Regions from separate parts of the Homo sapiens genome. Here regions 1, 3, 4 and 5 are each reported to be linked to region 2. The links are microRNA targets in miRTarBase. Many come from high-throughput screens and were not tested one by one. Region 2 holds a microRNA gene; each other region holds the end of a gene's coding sequence.

The links. The annotated mature microRNA hsa-miR-3157-3p reads CUGCCCUAGUCUAGCUGAAGCU and lies in region 2 at 1,680-1,701, shown strand. An mRNA with a match to its seed (bases 2 to 7 or 8) in the 3' UTR can be bound and repressed. Matches are read on the target gene's strand: a 7mer-m8 pairs with bases 2 to 8, a 7mer-A1 pairs with bases 2 to 7 and ends in A, and an 8mer does both.
Region 1: miRTarBase lists ARAP1 as a target of hsa-miR-3157-3p. The part of its 3' UTR that is shown has no 7-base or 8-base seed match.
Region 3: miRTarBase lists NRIP3 as a target of hsa-miR-3157-3p. Seed matches in the 3' UTR shown: 7mer-A1 at 1,406-1,412.
Region 4: the mRNA of DAB2 is a reported target of hsa-miR-3157-3p. Seed matches in the 3' UTR shown: 7mer-A1 at 1,322-1,328.
Region 5: miRTarBase lists CFAP77 as a target of hsa-miR-3157-3p. Seed matches in the 3' UTR shown: 7mer-m8 at 763-769.

The regions. Positions count from the first base shown.
Region 1 is chr11:72,682,407-72,686,406 of GRCh38, forward strand. ARAP1 (ArfGAP with RhoGAP domain, ankyrin repeat and PH domain 1) reads right to left here. Exons shown (of 35, transcript NM_001040118.3): 34 at 3,636-3,785; 35 at 2,663-3,275. The coding sequence ends at 3,258. Among named protein-coding and RNA genes, the nearest start is that of PDE2A, 10 kb to the left of the region's middle. RefSeq lists an enhancer at 2,328-2,887.
Region 2 is chr10:96,061,875-96,066,021 of GRCh38, reverse strand. It overlaps MIR3157 (microRNA 3157), which reads left to right and starts at 1,623; the gene lies at 1,623-1,707. The region is part of intron 2 of ENTPD1-AS1 (ENTPD1 antisense RNA 1); the gene reads left to right.
Region 3 is chr11:8,980,129-8,984,275 of GRCh38, reverse strand. NRIP3 (nuclear receptor interacting protein 3) reads left to right here. Exons shown (of 7, transcript NM_020645.3): 5 at 152-204; 6 at 307-401; 7 at 716-3,700. The coding sequence ends at 731. Among named protein-coding and RNA genes, the nearest start is that of TMEM9B-AS1, 18 kb to the right of the region's middle.
Region 4 is chr5:39,371,321-39,375,467 of GRCh38, forward strand. DAB2 (DAB adaptor protein 2) reads right to left here. Exons shown (of 15, transcript NM_001343.4): 14 at 3,694-3,764; 15 at 357-2,105. The coding sequence ends at 3,699. Among named protein-coding and RNA genes, the nearest start is that of C9, 8.9 kb to the left of the region's middle.
Region 5 is chr9:132,571,997-132,576,143 of GRCh38, forward strand. CFAP77 (cilia and flagella associated protein 77) reads left to right here. Exons shown (of 6, transcript NM_001282957.2): 6 at 392-1,323. The coding sequence ends at 514. Among named protein-coding and RNA genes, the nearest start is that of BARHL1, 8.5 kb to the right of the region's middle. RefSeq lists a silencer at 3,244-3,313.

The DNA of each region.
Region 1 (4,000 bases), not on the chromosome of region 2:
CAGTGTTCAGTAACGCTCTGCATACAGTTGGTGTTCAATAAGTGCTTGTTGAGTGCAAATATATTGGGACTAGAATATGCCATGATACCTTCTCAGAAACTGCAGACAGTGCAGTGGGAAGGGGATTAGCAAGGGGCAATGCTAGGCACTTCACACTTACTAGCTCATTTAATTGCCCAAACCACTAGGAGGTAGCTACTATTAATACCCGCAAAGTACAGATGACAACATTGAGGATCAGAGACCTAAGTAACTCAGGCAAAGTCACACAGCTTGTAAACAGGAGCACTGGCACCCACACGCGTGCTTTCCAAGACAGCGGGCTGTGGGCAGGTGGCTTGGAGGCCACCAGAGCATGAGGCCAGGAAAGAAGCCCCAGCTCTTGCCCTTCCCTGTCCCACTGATTTCCTTCTCCAGAAGCCCCAGGACTCCTCAGAACTCTGCAGGGTAGGAAGGTTGTGCTGGAAGGAGGCAGGAGAGAGGCAGACATCCTACCCCACCTCCCTGCCCCTCTCCCCTCTGCCCCCCAGCCTCCCCTTCACCTGCAGTGCCCTCACCATCCAGGCTCTGACGTGCCTCGGCCTTCTTTCCCAGGGCTCCCCGTATTCCCCAGGGGCTAGGCCTGGATTTGGGTTGGTCCTTGAAGCCCTGTCCTCCTCCCCCAATATTTCAGTATTTCAACCTCTACCCCAACCACACCTGGCAAGGCCTCCGGTCTTCAAAGCTGGCTCAGGAGCACTTCCTTGTCCAGGAAGCCCCTCCCTTTCCAAGAGCTGCTCCTGGCCCCTCTGCAGGTCCAGGTCTGGGGTCTTCAACTCATCCATGGCAACCCAACTTCAAATAATATGTGAATGAGCAAACCATCCAGGGTCCCAACAGGCCCCATTTTTAGGAATCCTTGCGACAAGGACCAGCAGAGCCTCCTGCCCCTAACCCATCCAACACTGTTGTCACAGGCATATTTCATTCCGGCTGAGGCCCTGAGGCTCCTGTTTGGATGTCACCCCTACCCCTTACCAGAGGGAAATCACTTTAAGCCATCACTAACTCCTGACAGTTCAGACCCCCTGCCTCAGGCCATTTCTAAGAGGAGAAAAGGGTTGGAATCAGGAGGGGAGTCAAAGAGGGAGACCCCACCAAAGTAGGGCAGGGGAAATGGACCTCAGGCCTGCTTCACGAGCATGGTGTGACCTTGGGAAAGTTGCCTCCCTTCTCTGGGCCTAGCTCCCCCTTGCCAAGAGCAGACAGTGCAGGGGGCACAGGGGCCGATTCACAGCAGGTACTTGGTAGAAGGCTGTTCCCTCCTCTTCCTGGTTCCCAGAGCCCAGGACTCCAATGCACATTCCTGTATGGTGCTGCCTTCCAGAATGTCACCAGCCTGCAGGCCAAAGGCAGAACTGGGTCCCGCTTCACACCCCAGCAGAGAAAGGTCTGGGCCAGGACCACCACTCAGGCATCCTCCAGACCCTGCTTTGATTCCAGCAATGATGAGTGGTCCATGGCTGCCGCCTTGTGGCCTAGTGCAGGACTGCAGCCAGCACGCTGAGCTGGGGCAGTGGCCTTAGCAGAGCAGGGGGCGCCTCCAGTCTCACCCACTCAGGTGGGCCTCAGGGCTGGCTGGGCAGTGCAAGGTCAGATCCAGGAGCGGATTCCAGCCCCTCAGCACTTGGATAAGGGGGTCCAACCTGTCCTGGCTGGAGGCAGAAGGGTCAGACATTCGACCTGTGGATCTGGCCAGAGCGACCCACAGGAGGTGGGAGACTCAAGGGGCTTAGCCCCAGCCTGTGAAATAGGTCAGTAGGACTCAGGGAACCGGTTCCAGTCTCCTGCCATATACCTCCCCTTCCTGAGACAGCGAGAGGGAACCTGGAGTCCAGCTCCCCAAGTCTTCCGCTGGACCCAGGCTCCCCACTGAGCTGGATGCCTGAGTCGGAGGTCACATGGCCCATCCCCACCCACTCTGCCCAGCCCCACTGGCTGAGGCTAAGGATGGAGGTCAGCCTGTCCGCCCACTGAGCCCCCGAAGAGCGGGTGGTAATGAGGCTCTAGGCAGAGGCGGGAATGTGGTGTCTGGCACCTCCCCAGGGAGTCCCAAACCCATCTCTGAGCAACTCATTATTTCCTCTGCAGGCCAGGGCCTCATCTTCTTAGTGGAGATGGCCAGGCAGTGCCCAGTGAGGGCAGCCCCCTGGTGCATGGCAGGCCCCACCTCTGGAGGGGTAGGCACTGGGGCCACAGGTGACCCAAAGGTGCTTCTTCTCAATTTCCTCAGGCTCCTGTGGCTCTGACCTTGTGTCTCCAGCAGGGGGCTGCTGCAGGGCTGCCAGGCCTGAGTCACTGACACACCACACCCAGGCCCCAGCTGGGACTCAGACTCGGACTGCAGCAGGACAGGGGCTTGTGTCCAGCCAGGGTCAGTGCTGGCCAGGAAAGGACCGGCATTCCCAGCCTGGCTGCAGGATAGTACAATGGGGAAGGCATGGAGTCAAGCCAGGGCTCTGCTTGGGGAAGGGGGTCGTCTGAATAGCTCAGGGCCTGGAGAAAGCAAGGCCTAGGTTCTCAGCTTCAGGCACTAGGCACTCACCCCTGGGCTTCCCGACCTCCTGTCCCCTCCTACCCCAGGACGCCCAATCCCCTTAGCCAATCACAGGCCTCAGCACCATAGGGTAAAATATACAGATATATTTATATTATCAAAAAGTCCCCAAATTGGGGAAGGGGCATCAGGTAGTCTGGACCCCCCACTCAGCCCAGACTGGAAGGAAGGCTGAAGTCCCCAAAGCGCAGCTCTCAGCCCTGTAGAAGCTCAGCCAAGAGCTCCCTCCCCGTGAGCTGAGTGCTCCTCTACAGCACCCGCTTTCTGCTGTTCTGGAGTTTGTTGGGAGGAGCAGGGGGCTCCCTTCCGGCAGGGCCCCAGGGCCTCACGCCTCTGAAAGGGTGGTGGTCCTCCCAAGTTCCTGACTTATGCCCATCTCTCCAGCCCCACAAGGACAGTGAACCCGGTGGGGTGAGCAGGTTGGGCCAAGAGGTCTGAACACCTGGACAGAGTTGGGAGAGGTTCCTGCCCAGGCTGACCCCTGCTGCCTCCCACCCCTGCCGGGGAACCCCATGCTGCAGTCAGGATGGAGGATGTGGGTTGTGGGGTGCAGTTTCCCATGCACCCCCCGCTGGCTCACATCAGGCCTTGGAGCATAAGGGGTGTCTGAACAGAAGGCTTCCAGCGGCGGAATCCTAGAGCCAAGGATGGGCTCCTGTGCTCAGACGTTGCGCAGAAGCTGCAGGAAGGCAAGAGACCCACAGGTATTTTGTGAAGGCCCAGAGGGGCTGGCGCCCCGCTGAAGCTGCTGCAGCTGCTGCAGCCACTCTCCACTGCCAGCCGGGGAGCACTCCAATCAGCCAGGCTCCCAGCTCCCAGGGCCAGGCAGAGGGGACTCCCAGCTTCCAGGGCCAGGCAGAAGGGGCTCCTTTGAATGGTGTGAACCAAAGAGGCCTATGAGGGCCCCCACCAAGGCTGGAGGGAGGGGGCCGGAGGGCAATCGGGGAGGGCAATCAGGGCAATCATCTACTGTGGAGTAGAAGGCAGGCACCCAGCCAGGCCCCCAGCCCCCTGCCCAAAGGCATGGAGAGCCACTCACAGACAGAGGGTCCGCGGTGAAGGCAGCCACACTCCGGCGCATTTCATTTTCACTACCTCGAAGGGGGATCAGTGACACACTACCCAGCCGGACCTCAGGCACTGCCCGGGACACGCGTGAGGGCTCTGAGGGCCACACCAGGCCGTCATGCTGGGGAGCAGAGAGGAAGGGGCTGGGCTCAGCTTCAGTTCACCCAGACACTCAGCCTCAGATCTGCCCACCCTTCCCAGAAATGCCTCCAGCTGTGGTCTGAGATGACACCCTCAGCTTTGATCCCCGCCGATATGAGAAGCAGCTGTGGGGAGAACATGACTGCATCTCTGGCAAAACACGGCCAGTTCTGTTACTCAACAACTCCAATCTCC
Region 2 (4,147 bases):
ACAAAGAAAGCAATTTCAGTTATCTAAGGACTCTTTAGAAGACAGAATTTTGCTGTTGGCATGCGTGACAGGCTATCTCTGTACATCTGGCGGTGTACTTTGTTTTCTCTGCCGTCTTTGTTATTCCAGGTCTGCACCATTTCCTTCTCAGAATATCTAATATGTGTCCATTAGATGAACCATAATGGTGTGTTAGGGTTTTGTATATCCTTGCTTTTTTTTTTTTTAATGTTACTGATCTGTCATGGACTTAGAGAAATAAATTAGTTTCTTACCTACCATCTTTTTTTTTTTTTTTGAGACGGAGTCTTGCTCTGTCACCCAGGCTGGAGTGCAGTGGCGCCATCTCGGCTCACTGCAAGCTCCGCCTCCTGGAGCTTTCTCCTGCTTCAGCCTCTGGAGTAGCTGGGACTACAGGCGCCCGCCACCACACCCGGCTAACTTTTTGTATTTTTGGTAGAGACGGAGTTTCACCGTGTTAGCCAGGATGGTCTCGATCTCCTGACCTCGTGATTCGCCCGCCTCGGCCTCCCAAAGTGCTGGGATTACAGGCGTGAGCCACTGCACCCTGCCCCATGTTTTTCTTTTATTTCTCTGTAAAACCTTTATAGTTTGTGCATAATATTGCTACAGTTATTTGATCCAGAAGTATTAATAACTTCATCCTTATCATGAACTGTAACCTTTAGCATTATAAAGTGCCCTTTTTAAAATTTGGTTTAATACATTTTGGCCAAAATTCAGCCTTGTCTGTTATTAAGATCTTGATCCTTGCTTTTTGTTTGAGTTTTTCTGGTATCTCTACTTTTTCGTTGATCTTCAACCTTTCTTAATCATTTTATTTTAGACCTGTCTCTCATACAACATAGATTTGAGTTTCACTTTGTGATTCAGTCTGAAGTTCTTTTTCCCTTAATAGTTGAGTTTGTTTTCATTTATTGATTTGATATGTTTGGACTTAGTTCTGTCAGATTATTTTGTTATACTTTTGCTATTTATACCTTTAAAGTATAGTTTACTATATGGAAAGTTTGCTTTGTTTTATTCCTTCTTTTCATAATTAGAAAGCTTTGTGTTTTTGTTCCTGTAGTTAACTTTGTAATACAGATTGTATAATCAGTATTTCTGTTTTCTATTTAGCCAGTATCTCAGTATCTGTAATTCACTTTTATAAGTAATAACAGAATTAGTATATTTCCTTTCCTTTATTCTATCCCTCAATTCTATCAATTTTGTTTTCTTTCTTAGGGTTTACCTTTGTACCATTAAATATCCATGTACCATTCTTACTCAATTTGTCATTATTGCAGAAAGCTTTCTGACTCCCATCTTCTCTTACTAACCTACCCTGATACTGTCAGATCATTCTTCCTAAAACCACCATTTTCTAAAATCATTATTCTTTCTAAAACCAATCTTCCTAAAATCATCATTCTTCCTAAAATCACCAGTATCATATCACAAATCCTCAGCGATATCTCTGACCCCACAAAGTCTGTATTCTCTTCTGGCTTTCAAAACTCCGTAACTCAACCTCATTCTACTCACTCAACTTTATTTCCTCTACAACTTCTCAATGAGTCTGCCCTCACTGTCCAACAATTGAGCTGAGAATATAAGAAGGGAAGGGCTTCAGCCAGGCTAGTGCAGTCTGCTTTGTGCCAACACTGGGGTGATGACTGCCCTAGTCTAGCTGAAGCTTTTCCCTTCTTTCTACACCCAGCTCAAGTCCCAGGTCCATAAAACCTTTAGAAACTCTTCAGAAACTCTTTAGAGCTTCAGAAGCTCTTGAGAATTGGAAGATGTTTACACCCAAGTTCAAGGATTACTTCCATCCCATTTCTGGTCTATGTCAGGGGCCTCTGTTAACTAGGAACTCAGGAACTCTCAAAGCAGCACTACTCTGTTTGTAACATTCTGGCTTATTATTCATTGAAATGTGAGAAACTTTGGACCACTGACTTAATTCTGCCCTTTGCAGTAATAGGACTTCTCACATCTGGGAAGACAAGCATTTTACCTTTCCTTAGGCTTCCCCAGGTGAAAACACCACCAGTTCCTTCAGTTGTTACTCATATAACATGATTCCTGGACCCATCACCAGCTTGTGGCAAAACTTGGGTTTATCACCATTCCACTTAAAATTCAGTTCACAAGATTTTTGTAGATACGATCTAACCAGTGCTGAATCTGATGGGACTGTGCCTTCCTATGATCAGAGTACTCTACTTTTTAAATCAACCCAAGGCAGCATTTGTTTATTAGTCACTGCCTACTTTTACACTGCATTTTTGTTGTTGTTGTTTTGAGACAGGGTCTCACTTTGTCACCCAGGCTGGAGTATAGTGGCACAAACATGGCTCACTGCAGCCTCGACCTCCTGGGCTCAAGCAGTCCTCCTGCTTCAGCCCCACAAGTAGCTGAGACTACAGGCACACACCACCACGCCCAGCTAGTTTTTTTATTTTTTGTAGAGATGGGGTTTTGCCATGTTGGCCAGGCTGGTCTTGAACTCCTGAGCTCAAGTGATCCACCCACCTTGGCCTCCAGAAGTGCTGGCATTACTGGTGTGAGCCACCGTGCTGGCCAATTTTTTGTTACCTACATCCCAAGAGCCTATGATGTGCTATCATACATCAGATCCCTATCACACACAGGGGCGTAAGATGAGTAAGACAAAATCCCTGCTCTCAAGAAACATATGTTCATTCTATGAAATACCTAACCACGGATTTTCAGAACTGTCGAGGTCATCACAGACAAAGTCTGAGTAACTGTCACAACCCAGAGTTGCCTAAGACCTGAGTGCTAAAGGTAATGTGATATCCTGCATAGGAATCTGGGAGAGAAAAAGGATATTAGGGAAAAACTAAGGAAATTTGAATAAAGCATGGATTTCTGTTAGTAATAGTACATCAGTACTGGTGCATTGTGACAAATGTACCATCTCAATATATTAATAAGAAGAGAGACTGGCTGTGGGCTATATGGGGACTCTGTGTACTATCTTAGTAATAATTCTGTACATCTAAGCTGTTCTAAAATTAAAAATCTTAAGAAAAAAAAAGGACAGCCTGGGTAACATGGCAAACCCCCACCTCTACAAAAAATTGTAAAAATGAGCCAGGCATGTGGTGGTGTATGCCTACGATCCTAGCTACTCAGGAGGCTGAAGTGGGAGAATTTTTTGAGCCCAGGAGGTCGAGGCTGCAGTGGGCCATAATGGCAACACTGCGCTCCAGCCTGGCAGACAGAGGGAAGATATGTTTGACATAGTTTAGATATTTGTCCCCACCCAAATCCATGTTGAAATGTAATCCCCAATGTTGGAGGTGGGGCCTAGTGGGAGGTGTTTGTCATGGGGGCGGATCCCTCATGGCTTGGTGCTGTCCTTGTGATAGTGAGTTCACTTCATGTGAGATCTGGTTAAAGTGTGTGGCACCTTCGCCTACCCCCACTTGTTCCCACCAAGTGAGATTCCTGCTCCTGCTTACCCTTCTGCCATGTTTCTTGAGGCCTCCCAGAAGCCAAGCAGATGCCAGCTCCATGCTCCCTGTACAGCCTACAGAAGCATGAGCCAGTTAAACCTCTCTTCTTTATAAATTACCCAGTCCTGAGTATTTCTTTATAGCAATGCGAGAACGGCCTAACACAAGGTTCTAGTAGGGAGAAACTAGCAAGTAAATGGATACAAGACAGTCACTCTTACATTTTTAATTACAGGTCCCTTTGAGTAGACAAAACTTTAAGAATAGGGGAAATCATTTACATATAAATTGCATACCATGTCAAGGCTTCATGGACTTAAGAACTAATAAATTCAGGGTGGTGATGCTTACCTGGGAGGCAGAGGGTGTTATGGGAGGAAACAGAGTGGTAGTCAGGCAAGGATAGGATAGCAGGTGTCCTTCCCATATGATCCCTGAGCCTGGTCCTTATGCTGTCAACTGACTGTACTTGCTACTTTAAAATCTAAGGGATTGAAAAATGAATGTTGAGTGATTCCTAAACTAACACGATATTAAACCGAGTTCCAGACTACACCAGCCTAATTTTATTTAGTGGCAGACTCTAGCTCTGTTGCCCAGGCTGGAGTGCAGTGGTGTGATCTCAGCTTATTGCAGTCTCCACCTCCTGAGTTCAAGTG
Region 3 (4,147 bases), not on the chromosome of region 2:
AATAAAAAAAAAATAAAAAAAAAATAACACATGCTCAATATATGTTTATTGGATGTTATTGGATGGATGGATGGAACCTAATAGTGATTAGGCCAACTTCTAAGCAAGCATGGAAATGGCTAAATCTTAATCATTTTTTTGTTTTTATTAGATGACAATGAGAAAAACTTGTCCCTTGGTCTACAGACTCTCCGATCTCTGAAGGTAAGATTGACTCCACTTACCCCTTGATACTTCCTCTCTGAGGCAGGTATCCTCTTACACAGGAACTCATAGTGGTATCACTGACAAGTTACCTGTTTTCAGTGCATCATAAACTTGGATAAGCACCGGCTGATCATGGGGAAGACAGACAAGGAAGAAATCCCTTTTGTGGAGACAGTCTCTTTGAATGAAGACAAGTGAGTGCCCAAATGGGTCAGATCAAGTCACATCCATTTGTCATCAGCTGCGAGCAGGGTGGTGGTGGTTCTCAGACAGGACATGGGGTTGTATCCTGTCTTTGGCTTTCAATTATACTACAAATCCACCCTTCCCCACACCCAGAGTTCATCACCCCACAAAACTCTGTAGTGCACACATCAGAATGAGCAATGGTGATGCCACACAGAGTGGTAGGGAAATGACTAGCTTTGAAAGCAAAATTTTACTTGCCTTCAGCTTAACTTTTTTTGAATTTGGCATTATTTCTCCTGATATTTATTTCTCATTTCAGCACTTCAGAAGCATAACTACAGCCTGCAGCATGTCTGCACGTGTGCATGCATACACACCGGGTTGACAGATAGAGAAAACTGGGTTTGAACCAAATGCCGTAGTGACTTGCTGTGGACCAAGTCCTTCCATCTAATAGAAGCTCCAGGGGCTCCTTCCCATTCAGACCTCTCTAGACTATAGTCTATGCTTAGAGATCTTGTCTGGTTATGGCCATTGTTTTTTACTACTTTGATCACTTAACTTATAGACCTTTTTTGACACTGCCAGTCTCACTTGTGGCCTATTTCTCTGCTTCTTCCAGGAATTTGCTTTTATTAGTCAAGTATAGGGGCTGCCAGGTTCTGTGTCTCCATAGATATATGTGCTTCTTTTCCTATAGCTAAATGTATAATAAACAGGAACCTGACCTTTACCTCCTTTCAGCTGTTTCAAACAGGTGCCAGGATACCTATGTCTTAGAATTAGAGTTTCTTCAAATTGATTCATTGATTTCTCAAGTATGGATTATGTGAAAGAGCCCAGGGACATTATCCATTACAGTTTAACTCTTTCATTTAAAGGTCCAGAGAGGCAAGTGAATTGTCTAAGTTCATATATTAGGTCAGTGACTGAAGGGACCAAGAACGCAGACCTGATTTCCAAGCCAAGACTCCCATGCTGCCTCATTTGTATTCAAGCCTTTAACAGGAGGGCAAAGAGGTGAGAATGTGTTAAAAAAAAAAAAAAAAAGGCAGAGCATGGGAGGAATATTCTCTGGAGATGGATGCTAGGATGATTTGGGTAGCTCTCCCTCCTGTGTGCCAAGCCCAGTAAAAGTTCCTTGCCCCAAACTGTCACATTTAGGCCCTCATCTTGGTGCCTAAAAACGAGCGTACAAAGATGAATGAAATGGTTTCTCACTGTGAACCTCTTGGAGGAAAGGAGGAACCACAGACAGAGGAATATTAATCCCTCTCTGATATGGAATTGAAGGCTTAAGTAAATCAGAGTGTCACTGTCAGACGTTGATTACTCCCAAGATCCGATCAGCATTTCTGCCCATCCTATTATGTGTCTGTCAAGGACTGAAGTAGCTGGAAACCAGGAGTAGAGAAAGATGGGGGGAAAAAAAGAGCAAGGCCAGAATAGAAGGGAGTAGACTGAGTAGAATCAGTTGGTGGAGAGGCCTATCTAGATAAACCTTTCTGGGAGGCAGGGAATGACATTTTCAGGCAGGGAATTGAGATGTTCAGTTCTGTCCTGATACAAGGAAAGAGGCAGAGCAGGAGCCGGCAATGTTAAGGACAACTTTTTATAACTGCCCAGTATTTCCTGACCCCTGTCAAAGGTTGGGGAGAATACAAGGTTTCTTGAAGCTTTTTGACTGGGGTGTCACATTAGGCACACAGGTGTCTATAATGGAATCTCCCCTTCAGTTTGGTCATAGAAGTGCTTGGACAAGTCAGAAAAATAGCTAGCTGTGGGTATCCCTTTAAGATATTCCCAAGTCTACCCTGTGTCATAGCAGTAGTTCTCAGAGTGTTTGTTTAAAGGATCCCACTTTGAACTTTGCCAAGTACTACCAACTACCTTGTCTGGTGTTCAGCAACTGCCCCTACTGAACAGCCCTTTGGAACTCTGAATGATTTGGGCCTCACAGAAGCTCCCTAAAGCCTAGGAACTTGGTGACTATCATTTGAACAACTAGGCAGCCATACTGCAGTCAGTTGTCATGGGGTCATTCCCTAGGCCCCCTTCCTATCAGCCTCTACCTAAAGAAGCTAGATAGGAAGCTAAGCACAGCCATGGTTGGGAGGCTATATCTAAAGCTCATGAGGGGTGATCCCGGGGTTACCAGCCTTCAGCACTCCCTCTAGCAACACCCCATTCTCTTACCTAGCGGGGATTTGTACCTTTCCACTGAGGCCTCTCCATGCTCCTTCCCTACCTTTCATGGCAATACTTTGGCCTGCCTCTTATCCTGGTACTAAGTTGAAGTAAAGCTCACCCTTTACTTCCCTACTTGAAAGTTCTACTCTGAGCCTTGACTCTTAGCCACAGTGAGGCATGTTGAAGGTTCCTGCTGGTTTATTCTTTTTTTTTTTTTTTTTTTAGACAGAGTCTCACTCTGTTGCCCAGGCTGGAGTGCAGTGGCACGATCTCGGTTCACTGCAAGCTCCGCCTCCCGGGTTCATGCCATTCTCCTGCCTCAGCCTCCCAAGTAGCTGGGACTACAGGCACCTGCCACCACGCCTGGCTAATTTTTTGTATTTTTAGTAGAGACGGGTTTCACCGTGTTAGCTAGGATGGTCTCGATCTCCTGACCTTGTGGTCCGCCCACCTCAGCCTCCCAAAGTGCTGGGATTACAGGCGTGAGCCACCGCACCCGGCCTTCATTCACTTTCTTTAAATGCCTCCAAGTTGATTATTCTCCTAGCTCATATCTCCTTGATGTGCATGAGGGAGCACTGGGTCTAATTTTTGGGGGCTGAGAAGGTAAGAAGGTGAGGTCAGTTTTTCCCAGGAGTCCTAAAAAATTCTGGTACCTTACATTGAGGGTGTGGGAGAAAGGGTGTCATAGTTCTGAAAATAGGCAGTAGCATGAAGCACCAGACCTGTCTCATTCCTTATTAGATGTCTATCTCAAATAACAGAGTTTGAAAAATATTGGTTTTATCATTTGATATTTCCATGCCTGACTCGGGAAAATAACATTTTCTGACTTCTTTCTATTTTCTTGCCCTGCACAGACCCTACCTGGTACAATTTTCTATTTCTTAGCTCAAAGTGTCTATACAATGGGTTGCCTGGTATGTCAGCTGCCCTCACTCTTGTGTAATAGAAATATATTGCCAGGCTGGGGACGTGGAGGAGACGAACTGGATTCCTCCCTCCTCCTGTTGCCAGGCCTCTCTGCATTGGCACTTTATCCTTTCAGTGTTTCTGGCTGTGTTGGGTTCATTTGTGAGACTGATGTAACAATAAAGTGAAATCTTCCCCTCTGTGTGCTTGTCTGACAAAGTCTTTGTGTCAGGGCTCCAGTCTGGAAGGTGGGGGAGACTAGGTAAAGTCTAATTGCATCAGCATTTTTCTCTTAGGGTCTCCTGTTCCTCCATTGCTACTGGCCCTTCAGGTGTCTCTTACTGACTGTATGTCGAGCACATTAGCAAACCTCACTGAGCTTGGTTTTGTAATCTATAAAACAGAAGTAATAAAAGTGCTTACCTCACAGTGTCAAATAAGAAAATCCATATAGAGTGGTTGGCATATGGTAGTCACTCAGAACTTCATATACGGGAACAATCTTTTATGGTGGACCTGTCAGCAGTCCGAGAGAACACTTCTAGAAAAGGAAATATAGCTGGACGCGGTGGCTCACACCTGTAATCCCAGCACTCTGGAAGGCTGAGGCTGGAGGATTACTTGAGCCCACGAGTTCAAGACCAGCCTG
Region 4 (4,147 bases), not on the chromosome of region 2:
GACTGAGTAAAAAACAAGAGGCAGCCAAGGGTAAAAGGCATGAACCAATAGTGCACTAATGAGTGATTTTATAGTGGATGTCAGCTGAGGTTGTTCTGGTACAGGTCTTATCTACTAGTCTTCCTTACACTCCCGGAAAGGGAGTGTGTGTGGGTTTGAGACAGAAGAAGGTGTGAAATAGATCAGACGGTAATTTACTCACGGTCCTATTTCATGGATTTCCACTTTCTCTTCACTGTTGTGACAATCCAGAATCTATTATAGCTAACATTTTCTCCACTTCAGACTGGTATGTTTTATAGCTTGCCTCTAATGTCAACTCAAAGCAGGTAGAATAAACCGATGGTACCACATGATATTCTGCCACTCCAGTTTATTGAAATGAGTAAATTTATAGCTTTATTTGCATACAGAAAAGTGCATGAGAAAATAAGTATGTACAAAACAGTTGTGTGGCTGATCATGACTTTCAAAAATTCAACTACCTAGAAATAGTTACCTCCAGTTTAGCACATTTAGGTATTTGGACATTTAAAGTACTATTTCAAGTCTGTGTTTATAGTGACTGAGTAGGAAGCTGATAGAAAATTATGCCATATATGATCAACTATTACCATTAAACATAAAACCACAGGACTTTCTACTTGGGGCTAATCAATAGAGGGTCATGTGGCCCCTGTCTTGTTTAGCTTCTGAGCATCACCCTCTTCTTCCCCCTCAAGGTAACATTGGATGTGGCTGATTAACTCCCACAAGAACCTGAGCATTAAGGGTCAAGAGACAACATTAAAAACCCAACATAAACAAAACAAAACAAAACTTATTTTGACAATAATAAACCCTTCAGAACTGTGCTCACAACAGGACTGAAAATGAACTGGGAACGTTTCCAAGTTGTGAGGAGAAAAATATTGCAGACATTAGATTTTCAATGGTAACCCCAAACATTTGTTCTACAGCTTTTTCTCCCCTCTTATCTTCCTACTAACGACATTGAGATTGTGGCTGCAAGAAAAGTTTTCCAGTTACTTGATAAAGGCCTAGCATGACCCCAAATAAGCACCTAATGTGTTTGGCACAATCACATTTAGCTTTGTGATATGTTGCTCTTCAAAATAGAGTCCTTTGTTGCTGAGTTGAGTTCAATTTCTCTTGAACATTAACTGCTCTTCTGGAACTTCAGCTCAAGAGAGTGGCCTCCTCTTCCACAGGAAGGATATAGGTTGTGCCCATTTGCAATTCTAGTTCTTGGGACTAGCAATTACTGAGAATGAAGAGAGGCTCCAGATCTGTCTGTGAATCATTAGATTTTTTTTTTTTTTTGCCCTGTGAGAGTCTGTTGCTTGTGAAAGGGTGGTAATACTACTTGAACCCAGGAGCAAAACTGACTGAAAAAAGAATCAGAAAAAAAAGGGGAGGAGAGATGAATAATGTTCTTCCCTCATTTGCAATAGCTAGCAAGAAATGGGAGAAAAGGACAATCTTGGCCTTGGGAGAAATTGATCTTCAGAAAGAAGAGAAGCTATCTCTTTAAAAAGGTCCTTAAGTGGTTAGATTCCAAAGTGTCTAAGGAGAAGTTGTAGTTGCTTCAATTTTACTTTAGAAATTCTCTGTAACTGATGGTCTGAAGCAAGATTTCTTTTAAGAAGGTGCCTTGTTCTACTATAACCTTTAGGTTTTATGCTCTGAAACAGAACCCCCAAACAACTCTGAACAATAAGGATTTGAAAATTTATTCAAAACAGTATGATATGAAGGGATGTGGTGGCTGCATCTCCCAACCAGAGGGTAGAAGGCAGGTGTTCTAGAAGGTTCCAGGGACACAAGAGGCAGGGTTCAGTAGGGAAACTACTGTACTTCATTTACACTTAAGCTAGAGAGTTTAGGATCTTAATTTATTTAAAGCCATAGATTCAGTTTAGCTTTAACCTAGACAGAAAGTGAAAAGCATTTTACAAGTAGAAGAGGCAATGAGAAATAAGGCAACAGATAATACGTCAAAGCTGGAACAAGGGCAGAAATCAGAACGTGTCTGGCTATCAGCTTTGTTTTTGACTACTAAGGCCAACCTTTTTATTCCTCTGGATGGTCTGCAGACCAAGTTCCTAGAGAGGTATGGAGAAGAAAGAAACTTGTGGTTAGAATTTTTGAACTGAATATCAATGTATTAAATATCAAGTCATTATTAAAGATGTCAGTAATAGTATCTCCTAGGGCTGATGTGAGGATTGATGAAGATGATAAATGTAGAGCATCTAATAAAATGCTTAGCGCAAGTGCTCAACAATGTTAGTTATTTTATCCCATGAGAGTTCCCCTTACCCAATCTATTGATGTAGCAGGTTGACCTAAACTATCCTTCCTTCATGACCTAAAGAAGGAAGGACCTCCAAAGAGAAGTCTAGTTCATTCAATTTAGTCCATACAATCCATCTTGACTCTGAGTGTAGTTTACTCCTTCTATTGGTTTGGGTATATCTCCCCTTGAATGGAAGGTGAGAATGATCTCTGGTAAGACTTCTAGCTCTTAAATATCTACTTACTGCTTTATTACCTTTAGAATCACCTGCACTCTTGTTAAAAGGAAGCATTTCCTTGGCACCAAAGAGAAATTCCTTAGGGCTGCAGTAGGACCCAGGAATTTGCATTTTTAATGATTTACCCAGTTCTCTGAAGCAGTTTATGGAAAGGTACTACAGGAAACACAGTCATTGTAGAACTGGAGTTGAGGGAAAATGATCCAGATGCCTATAAGCTCAATCTTATTGTTTTCGCCACGTTTAAGATATCTATCTATTAAAAATAATTACATTCTAGATGAGCCAAATCACAGTTTAGTAGTCCTGTTTGGATGAGACAAGATTGGAAAAAAAATGGGCTTGGTTTTTGTTGTTGTTGTTGTTGTTTTTCATTATTTCTATTGTTCTACCCCTACCAGCTGGCCTACCTGCTCTAAAATGGGGAGAGCGTTCCTTTCCCTACTAAATTCAGTCTTTTGAGATCAGAATAAAGTTGCTGTCACCTTCTGTAGAGAAAGAGTTACACTGAGCCCTCCCAGGATTTCAGCTGAGGGTGATTCTACCTAATCACTTATCTAAGATAAAGTTCATGAGACAGAAGAATCAACCTTCAGACTCATTTTGAGCTCCTACTGCCTATGAAGGAGATCTTTAATAGTTGTTAAAACTTTCAGATTTAATACCATCAGACTCTTTCAGACTAACTTTGAGATTGCTCACAGTTAAATGGTAGAGAAGTAATGATCATAATCTGTTTTGCTGACTTGGTGGCTTCAGAAAGTCAATGGAATCTGAACCCTTTATAGGAAACCAAATTATTACTAGGTTGTTTTGCAACCACTTCAATATGAAAGTAAAAAGGTTAGAAACCTGTGATGTGTTGTTTTGAGTTTTACTTCCCACACAGAACTGAAAAACCAAGAACATGGAATAAGATAAAAATCCACATCCCCAAGGGTATATTACTATTTTTTGATGTGTTTAGGAATTCTATTCTTAAGTGCCCAGCCTAGTCATTATTGAATGATCTCAGTAGAGATTTTCCTGTCGATTACTCCTAAATTATAGATATTTACCCTCTTCCCAATTCTAAAATTAAAATTTCACTCTTTATTCCATGTCACCCTTTCTCACAAAAACCCCTGAGACAGGCTTATTAGGATCTTCTACTTACAGAATTTAGGCAAAAGGATTTCCAAATGGATCCCTATACATCTCAGAAGATACAGGTTGAGAAGAAGCCACCTAAGAAGATAAAATCATCTAGTCAATAAATACAGTTACAGTCATAAGAAAAAAATCGCAATGAAGACTTCCAAAATTCTTTTAAAAATCGCTTAGGTCATAGGCCAATCAGCCAATCAAACATTATATGGGGCTTACAGTGTTTTGTTTTCATCTGCTTGCAGATGGCAGTGTATATTATTTATGTGAAAATCAAGGTTCAGATGCATTTCATTTGCCTCCCCGAAATGGGAAGTATTATTTTCACAGGCTATAGAAATATTGTTGGAAAATTAAGAACTTAAATTTTTGAAAGGTTTTCAAGACAGTATTTTGGCTCAATTTTCTCCCGAAATGCTTTCATGGGTCAGGTTAAGTGAGATATGAAGGATGTTTTCTATGTG
Region 5 (4,147 bases), not on the chromosome of region 2:
CAGCAAGGGAGTGCAGACAGGGTCAGGAGGTCCCCCTTGGAGAGGGTGGCTTGTTTGGGGTTTTTAATGGTGGAAAAGTAGTGCATGAAGGACACTGGCTACTAGGTCCCATTGCGTGGTCGTCTGGTCATGGCCTGGTGATTTTTGTTCTGCCTGTATCTTCCCCAGCAAGGAGCTGGACAGAAGGACGAACAGTTCCCCCAGGTAGCCCCTGCTCTCTGCCTCGTGGCTCAGCACCAGGAGGCTCACAGCACTTGCTGTGACTTCCTCCCTCTTACAGCTATTTTTATCATTATTCTAAGATTGAAGCAGGGGGCAGGCGAGGGGAGCAACTGGAATGAGCTACACTGAAGTCTCCCCTCACCCACCCACTCTTCCCTTCTATCCACAGGTGGGCCGCCACCTTGATACGTTCCCCACGGAGGCCGATCGCCAGAGAGCATTAAAAGCCCACCGGGAAGAGTGTGCCGTGCGCCAGGGGACCCTGCGGATGGGCAACTACACCCACCCCTAGCCCCTCCCTCCCCTGCCACAAGAAGCCATCTTGACATAGTGGAAAATTCCCAGAAGGACTCCCTATCTTGCCCCAACCCTGACATTCCCCCATTTTTATGCAGGTTCTGCTTCAAGGAGCTCAGATTCAAGTCTTAGGCTAATTGTTTTTGGTAAAAGTCCCCCCTTTTAGGTTAGCCAACATTAGTCTCCACTTAGCCCCAGTGACCCTCTACCTGGAGCCTCCTCCTCTCCTCCTCCTTCTCCTCCTAGGGCAGGCTCACCCTGCCTCTTCTCAAGCCCTCACCTGCCAAGACAAGCCCAAATTACAAGACAATTTTTTAGACTCCAGGCTAAGGGTCGATTCCATGGCTCTGCCCATTAAGTGTTAAGAACGACCTGTGTATTTGCTGCAGAAAGCATGACAGTGACGTGCTTTGAAAGCCCTCATTTTCTATTCCAAACATGAGTTTTAATTGCTCTTTTTGGGATGCCTGATGTCTCATCACGGCAGTATTATCTCTCTGGGACCTCTGACAGCAGGAAGAGCCAATGGTTCATTACTCGAGCCTGCCCCCGCCTCCTCAGTGCTGGGGCCCCGTCAATCAAGCAGGCCAAGTTGGACTCCTCCCCCAGGACTGACTTTGGAAGGTCAACCCACTCTGGAAAAAGCCTTCCAGGCCAGCGGGTAGACTGCTGAACACAGGCTGCTGAGCTTCTCAGCCGAATTCCTGGACACTTCCTCACTCGGTCTTTCCGTGTGTTCTTTGGATTCTCTCTGAAAATTTTATGCTGATCTATTTTAAATTAAAAATGCTATTTGTCATCCTCCTTTTGTGTCTCCATTTGAAAACCAGTGAGCAAATCAGCCTTAGAGACATCAAATGAGGGTGCTGCCACATAGAGACCTCTCAAGGTAAGCTAACCTCCAAAACATTCCAGCCACACCTTTTTTGAGGGAGGCAAATTTTCAAGTTTTAAATATCATTTCTAATCTAAGGGTTTTTTTTGTTTGTTTGCTTGTTTGTTTTTGAGACAGAGTCTCACTCTGTTGCCAGGCTGGAGTGCAGGGGCGCAATCTCAACTCACTGCAACCTCTGCCTCCTGGGTTCAAGCGATTCTCCTGCCTCAGCCTCCCGAGTTGCTGGGACTACAGGTGCGCACCACCACACCCAGCTAATTTTTGTATTTTTAGTAGAGATGGGGTTTCACCATGTTGGCCAGGATGGTCTTGATCTCTTGACCTCATGATCTGCCCCCCTCGGCTTCCCAAAGTGCTGGGATTACAGGCATGAGCCACCGCGCCCAGCCAAGGATTTCTTTCTTTTTTTTTTTTTTTTTAAACAGAGTCTTGCTCTGCCGCCCAGGCTGGAGTGCAGTGGTGCAATCTCGGCTCACTGCAAGCTCCACCTCCTGGGTTCACACCATTCTCCTGCCTCAGCCTCCTGAGTAGCTGGGACTACAGGTGCCCGCCACAACGCCCGGCTAATTTTTAAAAAATATTTTTAGCAGAGACGGGGTTTCACCATGTTAGCCAGGATGGTCTCGATCTCCTGACCTTGTGATCCACCCACCTCAGCCTCCCGAAGTGCTGGGATTACAGGCGCATGCCACCATGCCCAGCTAATTTTTGTATTTTTAGTAGAGATGGGGTTTCACCGTGTTGGGCAGGCTGGTCTCAAACTCCTGACTTCAGGTGATCCACCCGCCTCAGCCTCCCAAAGTGCTTGAATAACAGGCATGAGCCACCACGCCCAGCCCCCAGACTCATTTATCCAACTGCCCACTCAGCATCTCCCCTTGGGTGTCTGGCATTCATTGTTAACCACCATAGCCAAGGCAGACACTTGACTTTTTTTCTGCCAAACTTACTTCTCCCTCCGTCTTTCCCATCTCATAAGTAAGACCACCATCTACCCAGCTGTGGAAGCCAAAAGTCTTCAATACTCATTTTCCTTCATCCCTCCAATCTCCCAAGCAGGCAGAGTCTGAGTGGGCTGGCCCTGAGCAGGCGGTAGCACGCCATACCGCAAAAGAGTGCGAAGCACAGCTCTGCCCAGCAATTTCTGTGTGATCTTGAGCAACAGTCCTATCCTCTCTATGCCTCATCTCAGAGACAGGACCCCACGCATCACAGACTGTGTCTTCAAGCTAAATCAGGTGACCATTACATTAAAGAATGTGCATGACATGATTAGTACAGCAACTGGCACTTTTAAGCAATAGATTAATATGAATTATTATTTTTTTCTTATCACTGACTCACACTGCAGAGGCATCAACCAGAGCCCTGTGAGTGACTGAGGGACTGGGCAGGCCAGGACGCTCACGAGGACGGAGGGCTTTCATCCAGATACATCCAGAAGCTGAAGGATATTTTGAATCGAGCCCACTCTTTCGCTCTGAAATCCCCTACGGAAAGGGGAGGGGGCACATCAGGAGGCAGAAGAGTTTCCTGAAGAACCCAAAATTGGCCCCACTGTGGCAACAGAGATGCCCTCCCAGGCCTGCTTTTCCCCAGGACCTGGGCCGAGGCAGGCAGGACAGGCTCAGCTAGGAAATCTCTTTTGTTTCTCCAATCACTCCTTGCCCCATTTGCTGTGGGACCCGCTAGGGCTGTGGCAGATGCCCTGGAAGCATCACTCTGGGTGCTCTCTGGAGTCCTCCGGGTGCTCCCAGCCCAGGCCGGAAGCAGTGCTCACTGGAGAGACCCTCAGCTCCTTGTCCTACAGTGCCACCTGCTGGCGAGTCTGAGTCAGAGGCGGCGGAGATTCCCGGCCCTTCCCTCTCTCCTGGCGTCCTTCCCCCACCAAGCCTGGTTCTTCCCGCCTCATTGATTATCTGTGACTGCACAAAGCCCCGAGTCTGATTCTGGCCTGATTCTACTTTCTTGGGTATCCTGTCACCTCGGCCAAACCCCTGTCCTCACCTGAGCTGACCCTGGCTGGGGCAACTACCTGCCCTTTATGACCTGGATAGAGTCCCCACAGCGTCCAGCCTGGAAGGGCCTTGGGGATCATCTTGTTCGTCTCCCTCCACTGCCATTTCCTCAACTTCATAGGTGGAAAGTGGACGTGAAAGGAATCCTGAGTCCACTCACGAAGCCAGGGCAGTGAACTCTCCCAGGCCAGTGACGTCCACGACACGTTCCAGAGCCTGCCCCCCAAAACCCCTTCCCAATGAAAGATGGATGGAAATGGGGATAGCCTAGCTTTCCATCCCAAGTCCTCCCAGTCACGCACCAACAAATGCCGGGTGAGCGTGAGTGTCGTTGGAGGTATGACTTTGTGCCTCCGTTTTGGCTAATTTCCTCACTGGTTGGCAGTTAGGAACATTCTACCTCCTGGTTGACCTTCTTGGCAACACCTCATAGGAGGTTTAACCAAAGAGGTCCACAGGCACTGTTTCCACAGGCCTAGGGAGGCAGCTGGTCTGGGCCCTCACCTGGCCTGCTTGAAATTCTCTGAAGTCCCCTCCAAGGTAAGAGGGAGGCAGCACCACACTTATGTGCACCTGGCAAGGTGGACGGGGCAAGTGCAGGACTGGGTGCCAGAGCGTGGAGATGGAGCCGTTGGGAAGAGGACTCATGAAGATGGACAGGCTTAAGGACACCTGGAGACGAGGCTGAGTCTTCACCCACCACCATTTCTTGAGA